Homo sapiens: one gene and its partner. The protein of the gene in region 1 interacts with the protein of each later gene in a biochemical or structural test. Each region holds a gene or a part of one and is shown on either strand. Other genes may lie near its edges.

What was found.
Region 2: the proteins of CIMIP4 (region 1) and TRPV4 interact in a test that uses a peptide from one of them, tested with the Homo sapiens proteins (one large-scale study listed by BioGRID).

What each region holds. Positions count from the first base shown.
Region 1 is NC_000022.11:36,994,232-36,998,052, reverse strand, and holds part of CIMIP4 (ciliary microtubule inner protein 4), read left to right. Parts: intron 1-3,821.
Region 2 is NC_000012.12:109,782,350-109,785,575, forward strand, and holds the end of TRPV4 (transient receptor potential cation channel subfamily V member 4), read right to left. Parts: intron 2,089-3,226; coding exon 1,967-2,088; intron 1,430-1,966; coding exon 1,272-1,429; 3' UTR 740-1,271; downstream 1-739. UniProt on the Homo sapiens protein: Non-selective calcium permeant cation channel involved in osmotic sensitivity and mechanosensitivity. Activation by exposure to hypotonicity within the physiological range exhibits an outward rectification.

The DNA of each region.
Region 1 (3,821 bases):
ACAAGAGGCAATTGTCTCTCTGAACTGACTGGCACATAAATGCTGTCTTAAAATTGGCCATGCTAGTAGTATTTACACTCTGGAAATTGGCAAACACTATGAATCAGGGCTTCACCCTGCCACACAGTGCTGTCAGTGTGCCCATCCATCTGTCCCTCTCTGTTTCCACCCACCCAGGGTTAGCCTTTATACTTGCTGTTTGAGGTTGGTGAGGCTGGTATGGCTGCACAGGAGTGAGGCAGAAGACATCAGAGGAAACAGGCTGGGTCGTGAAGCCTGCTGGAAGGTCTTTACTCGGAGTGAGATGAGAAACCAAGCCGGGATTTTAAGCAGGAGAATGGCCCTGTTTGGCTCAGGTTAAGGGCTCACTCCAGTTGCTATGGGGAGAATGGACATAGGGAGATGGGGCAGAAACAGGGAAACTGGTAGGAGGCAGCTGCAAAACTCCAGATGGGACAGATGATGGTGGCTTGGTGTTGGAAGCTGGGCTAGTGCACCTGCGCTATTTTGGAAGGCACCATTGTGCAATATAGCAGCTCAGGGAGGTAATGGTGAAGGTGGCCTGATGTAGTAGGATTCTGGATATTTGTATAAGGCAGAGAGAAAAGAATATGCTAATGAATAGATTTTGGGGTGAGAGAGGAATTAACGTTGACTTCAACGTTTTGACCTGAACAACTGGAAGGATGAGATGGCTATTTACTGAATTAGAGAAGCTGCCAGGGGGAGCAGGTTGAGGGACTCCTATCCTATGCTAAATCGTAGATCATCTTTTACACAGTCTTCTAAAATTTTTAGTTTTGCTTTTCACATTTAACTCTTTAATCCACCTGGGGTTGATTTTTGTTTTTAGTATGAAGTAGGGATTCATTTTCAAAAACTGTAGATGGCTTTTGTGAGTTTTAGCCATTTAAGAAAGTAGTAAAACTGAGGCTTGAGGAAACTTTAGGCAGCTTGCCCAGCTGTATAAAGAGTGAGATGACGAGCTCAGGCATTCCTTGGGCATCTGTGTGCCCAGCCCTCAAAATAATGGAACAACAACACCAGAAATCTTTCCCCAGTAGGGATTCATTTTCAATTCCTTCTTTATGTGGGTTACTGACTGCCTCAGTACCTTTTATTGAATAGGCTCATCTTTCCTCCCGGTGACCTGCAGTGGTACTTCTGTTATCCATCAGGTTTTGACACATGCATAGATCAGTTTCAGGCTCTATTCTGTCCATTGGTCTAATATTACATTTTTAATCACCAAAGTATTATAAGTAGCCTGATATCTGGTCAGGCAATACTCCCACTACCACCCCTCCACCACCATCACCAGTTAATGTCTTGGGTTTCTAGGCCCTTTACTCTCCCATACAAATGTTATTAATAAACAGAAATTTCCATGAAAAACCCTGTTGGGATTTTGATTGGAAATACATTGAATCTACAGCTCAATTTAAGGGCTGTTGTCAGCTTTATAATGAATTTTCTAATATATGAATATGGTATATACCTCCATTAATTTAAGTCTTCCTTCGATATCTCTCAGTAACATTTTGTGATTTTTTTTTTTCTATAAACATCATGCAGGTTTTTTTGTTAGACTTACTCAGGAGAATCTCTTTTTTTGCTGCTGTTGAAAATGATATCTTTTTAAAATTATATTTTCTAACTTTGCTGCTGATACCGTATACACAAATGCAATTTTTGTTTTTGTATATTAATCTCGTATCCAGAAGCTTTATGCAGCTCACCAATTAATTCCAGTAATTAGTTATTGATTCTTTAGGAGTGCTTTTGAATAGTAATAATGGCTACATTTATGCATAGTATTTAACATATGCCAGGTACTGCTCTGAGTACTTTATATATATATTTTATTCTGCACATGAATCCCATGTGGTAAATGCTACAATTCCCATTTTTTTTTCCAGATAAAAAATAATTGAGTCATGGAAAAGTTAAATAACTTAATTAAGGCCACACAGATAGGGACGGTCAGAATTGGGATTTAAACCCTGCCAGTCAGAGGCTAGAGTTTAAATTCCTAAACACTAGGCTTTTCTTACCTTTATATCAGCATCTGGCTGACCTCTCTAGGACAATGGTGTCTATAAGCAGGAAAAACAGGCATCCTTATCTCCTTCTTGATTCTAACATTACATCATTAAATATAATATAGTCTGTTTTCATACTGCTGATAAAAACATACCTGAGACTGGGTAATTTATAAAGAAAAAGAGGTTTAATAGACTCACAGTTCCATGTAGCTGGGGAGGCCTCACATCATGGTGGAAGGTGAAAGGCACGTCTTACACGGTGGCCGACAAGAGAGAATGGGAACCAAGTGAAAGAAGTTTCCCCTTATAAAGCCATCAGATCTCATGAAATTTATTCACTACCATGGAAACAGCATGGGGGAAAATGGAGCTGGCTCTGGGTCTTAGTCTGGCTTTGGGTGTCCTGAGAGTTTGGTGAACTTCATGTGGGGAGAGTATTGGCATGGCCGTGAGTCCTGGGTGTATAGGCTTCCCACAGACAGGGCTGCGGGGGAACCATGTGGGATGGCCTGCAGGAATATGGCCACGGTGAGTGGCCCTTTGTGTATTTTCTGCCTCCCAACTCACCGTGGCTCCAGCTTCAGAAGGAGGTCAGAGCAGAACACCCCTGTGGGCTAACATGAAGGTCCTCATCTGCTCCATGCAGCAGGGCTGGGAGGGGAGAGTAGAGGGTCAGCCCATGGTAAGGACAAGCCACATACAAATCAAAACCTTGGCTGGGCTCACCTGGACATTGTGTCTTTGAGTCACAGAGCAGGCAGAATGGTAGCTTACGTCCTGTCCTTTTCCCTCTGTGTCCAGGTATCCAGGGATCCCTGAACCAGCTTACCAAGGATTTTCTTTTTTTCACTTCTTTCCATTGTTGGAATTCTGATTTCCTCTATTTGGTGTCTTCCTCTTTCTTGGTTTGCTCTCTTGTCTTTGGGGTGGATTCCATCTCCCAGCTTGATGTGACTGTCATTGGAGAACACAGCCCTGTAATGATTTCAATCCTTTGAAATTGTTCAGATTTGCTTTAGAGCCCAGTAGATGGTGATTTTTGTAGATGATCTGTGTGTGCTTAAGAATAATCTCTCCAGGCCGGGCGCAGTGGCTCACGCCTGTAATCCCAGCACTTTGGGAGGCCGAGGCGGGTGGATCATGAGGTCAGGAGATCGAGACCATCCTGGCTAACAAGGTGAAACCCCGTCTCTACTAAAAATACAAAAAATTAGCCGGGCGCGGTGGCGGGCGCCTGTAGTCCCAGCTACTCGGGAGGCTGAGGCAGGAGAATGGCGTGAACCCGGGAAGCGGAGCTTGCAGTGAGCCGAGATTGCGCCACTGCACACCAGCCTGGTGACAGAGCAAGACTCCATCTCAAAAAAAAAAAAAAAAAAATCTCAGGAGGCGGAGCCAGGCAGATCACAAGGTCAAGAGATCGAGATCATCCTGGCCAATATGGTGAAACCCTATATCTACTAAAAATACAAAAATTAGCTGGCATGATGGCGCATGTCTCTACTAAAAATACAAAAATTAGCTAGGCGTGATGGCGCACGCCTGTAATGGCTTCTCAGGAGGCTGAGGCAGAAGAATCGCTTGAACCCGGGAGGCGGAGGTAGGCGGAGGTTATAGTGAGCGGAGATCGCGCCACTGCACTCCAGCCTGGTGACAGAGCAAGACTCCCTCTCAAAATAATGATAATAATAATAATAATAACAATCTCTTGGGTAAGGGATTCTGCATTTGTCTATAGAACAGGCTTGTTAATAATTTCTGCACAAATCTTCTAATCCT
Region 2 (3,226 bases), on another chromosome or scaffold:
GGCTCATGGCTCACAGCTCCAGGTGGCATGTGGCCCTGTGGACAGACACAGGCAGGCAGTCCTCAAGGAGGCACCATCCCACTTAGCCAGGAGCACCATGACCCCCACCCATCCCAGCTCCACAAGCACTGCCAATCGCCCCTGCCACCATGGTCCTCACCACAGCGACCCGCATGCACACCCAGCACCCTGCTGACACTCCAGGCTCACCCACTGCCACGCCTGCTCCGTGCTGCCTGGCAACCATCCTCCCGCCTAGCAGGACAGCCCTCCCAGTATAATTGTCCCCTGATGAGCACCAGAGTCCCCGCACCTGCACTGTCAACCCCTGGCCAGCGTTACTCTCCCCTGCCCAAATGTACTGTCTCCATGGGGATCATTATCCCCCAGCCAGCACTACTGTCACCCCCACCAGCATCACTCTCGCCCTGCCAACATGACTCTCCCTGGCCAGCATTATTACCCCCACCAGCATCACTCTGCTCTCCTCCCTCCACCCCCACCTTCCCCACAGCCACACCAACCTCAGCCACCTCTCAGGCCACCACCACCACCATCACAACCACCCAGTCCAGCCCCCAACCACCAACACTCTAAATGCCTCCCGGTCAGGACTTCTGCCCTCACTCTCACCCCTGCCCCTGGCTCCCCCCAGGCATTTCCTAGCTCTCCCATCTCCCTCGCTGCAGTCTCATGCCTGTTACCATCCCTCCCACCCCTGCCATCATCCTGCCATCTCCACCGTCAATGAATAAACATTTATTGAGCACCGGCAAATCCCAGACACTACAGAACACACAGAAGGCATGGCCCCACGCCGAGGGCCCCAGCCCCTTGCAAAGCTGCCACGCTGCCAAAAATGGTGGCGCATGCAGCTCAGGCGCAGGCTGAGGCTGGGGCTTGGCCGGGCAGTGCACTTGGAACGGGGTCCTAAGGCCTCTGCCAGGTTCCAGCTGGGGCAGGGGTCACGTCGCTTCCTGAGAGCAGAGCAAATAAATAATGGAGAGGCAGGGGCTGGGGCCTGAGGTGGAGGGGCTCTGGCGTTGGCTTATGTGACTCCATAGGAGCAAGACAGGTGGCCGGGAGCCCCCACCCCAGGGTGGGGAGGCAGAGCCAGGGGACCACAGGGTCCTGGGGCCTCCCTGGCACCTCCACTGGTCCCTCGCCTCTGGGGCCAAAGCAGGGTGTGGGGGGACACCCCAGAAGGCACTGCTGAAATGCGGCTGGACTAGAAATGAGTGGGCAGAGAAGCTGGGGCTGGGCTGCAGTCCCTAGAGCGGGGCGTCATCAGTCCTCCACTTGCGGGGGTAACCCTGCTGGTGGCCATCGCAGCGGGGGTTCCCCATGCTGTCCAGAGGCACCACCACCTCGTCCGGGTTCGAGTTCTTGTTCAGTTCCACCACGCGGGGTACCACCGAGGACCAGCGATCTGCACCGAGAGCACATCAGAGGGAGGGGTGGGGGTTGGTGGAGAGAGAGCGTGCGTATATTGAGTGCCTACTGTGTACTGGGCACTCCACAGTGTTCTGAAGGGGGGATGTGACTATGCTCATTTTACAGAGGTGGAAACTGGGGCTCAAGAGAGGTCAAGGTGCCTCCCCAGGAGAGAATGGAGGAACCAGGATTCAAGCCTGGAGCCGAATGCCCTGAGTGCCTGTGTCCTCTCCAGCTGCGTCTCGCGTGCTCATGGCTTACTGGACAAACAGGAAGGTTTTCTCCACACAGGGATGGCTGAGGAGCTCGTCCTCCCTCCCCAGGCCAGCTTATGTCAACAGTAGGGAGGGCCAGGATGAAGCCACGTAGGTGAGGTGCCCCAGGCATTCACAAGCAGCAGAGGAAGCTCAGGGGCACACTCTCTCATTCTGTAGACACGGACACTGAGTCCCGGAAAGAAGCAGGACTGCTCAAAGCAAATTCGTGATGAGAATGGACTGGGGCTCCCCTCCGCACCCGCCCCTCCACTCACCCCTGCGGAGGCGGCCCACGGTATGCGAGAAGCCATAATACTGGTAGGTCTCATTCTTGCCCGGGTCCTCGTTGATGATGCCCAAGTTCTGGTTCCAGTGAGACCAGTTCACCTCATCCACCCTGGCAGGGCCCAAGCAGAGGGTCATGGGGAACCCCTCAGAGACGCTCTCCATGCCACCATCCCCAGCACACCCTCCTATTTTTTTATTATGGTAACATATACATAACAAGGCTGGGCGTGGTGGCTCATGCCTGCAATCCCAGCACTTTGGGAGGCCGAGGTGGGTGGGTCATTTGAGGTCAGGAGTTCGAGACCAGCCTGGCCAACATGGTGAAACCCCACCTCTACTAAAAATTAAAAAAAATTAAAAAAAAAATTAGCGGGGCATGGTGGCGGGTGCCTATAGTCCCAGTGACCCGAGAGGCTGAGGCAGGAAAATCACTTGAACCTGGGAGGCAGTTGCAGTGAGCCGAGATCACGCCACTGCACTCCAACCTGGGGGACAAAGCAAGACTCCATCTCAAAAAAAAAAAAAAAAAGACGTGTGTGTGTGTGTGTGTGTGTGTGTGTATACACACACAAAAAATTTGCCATCTTAATCATTTTTGAGTATACAATTCAGTGGCATTAAGCACATCCACATTGTGTGACCATCACAGCTATCTATTTCCAAAATTCTTCCATTCCCCCAAGCAGAAATTATTTTTTTTAACCTTCTTTTGAGACAGGGTCTCACTCCATTGCCCAGGCTAGGGTGCAGTGGCACGATCACAGCTCACTGCAACCTTGACCTCCCAGGCTCAAGTGATCCGCCCACTTCAGCCCCCCATGTAGCTGGGATTACAGGGATATGCCACCACACCTGGCTAATTTTTTAAAAACGTTTTGTAGAGATGGGGTTTCACTATGTTGGTCTTGAACTCCTGGGCTCAAGCAATCCTCTTGCCTCGCTTCCCAAAGTGTTGGTATTACAGTCACCACGCCTGGCCCAGATAATATTTCACTGTACACATAGCCCACATTTTGTTTATCCACTCATTTTTTTATATATTATCTTTTTTTTTTACATATTATCTTTAATTTTTTATCCTATCTATTCATTTTTGTTTGTTTGTTTTAAGGCAGAGTCTTGCTCTGTCCGCCAGACTGGAGTGCAGTAGTGCAATCTCGGCTCACTGCAACCTCCACCTACCAGGTTCAAGCGATTCTCCTGCCTCAGCCTCCCGAGTAGCTGGGATTACAGGTGCATGCCACCAC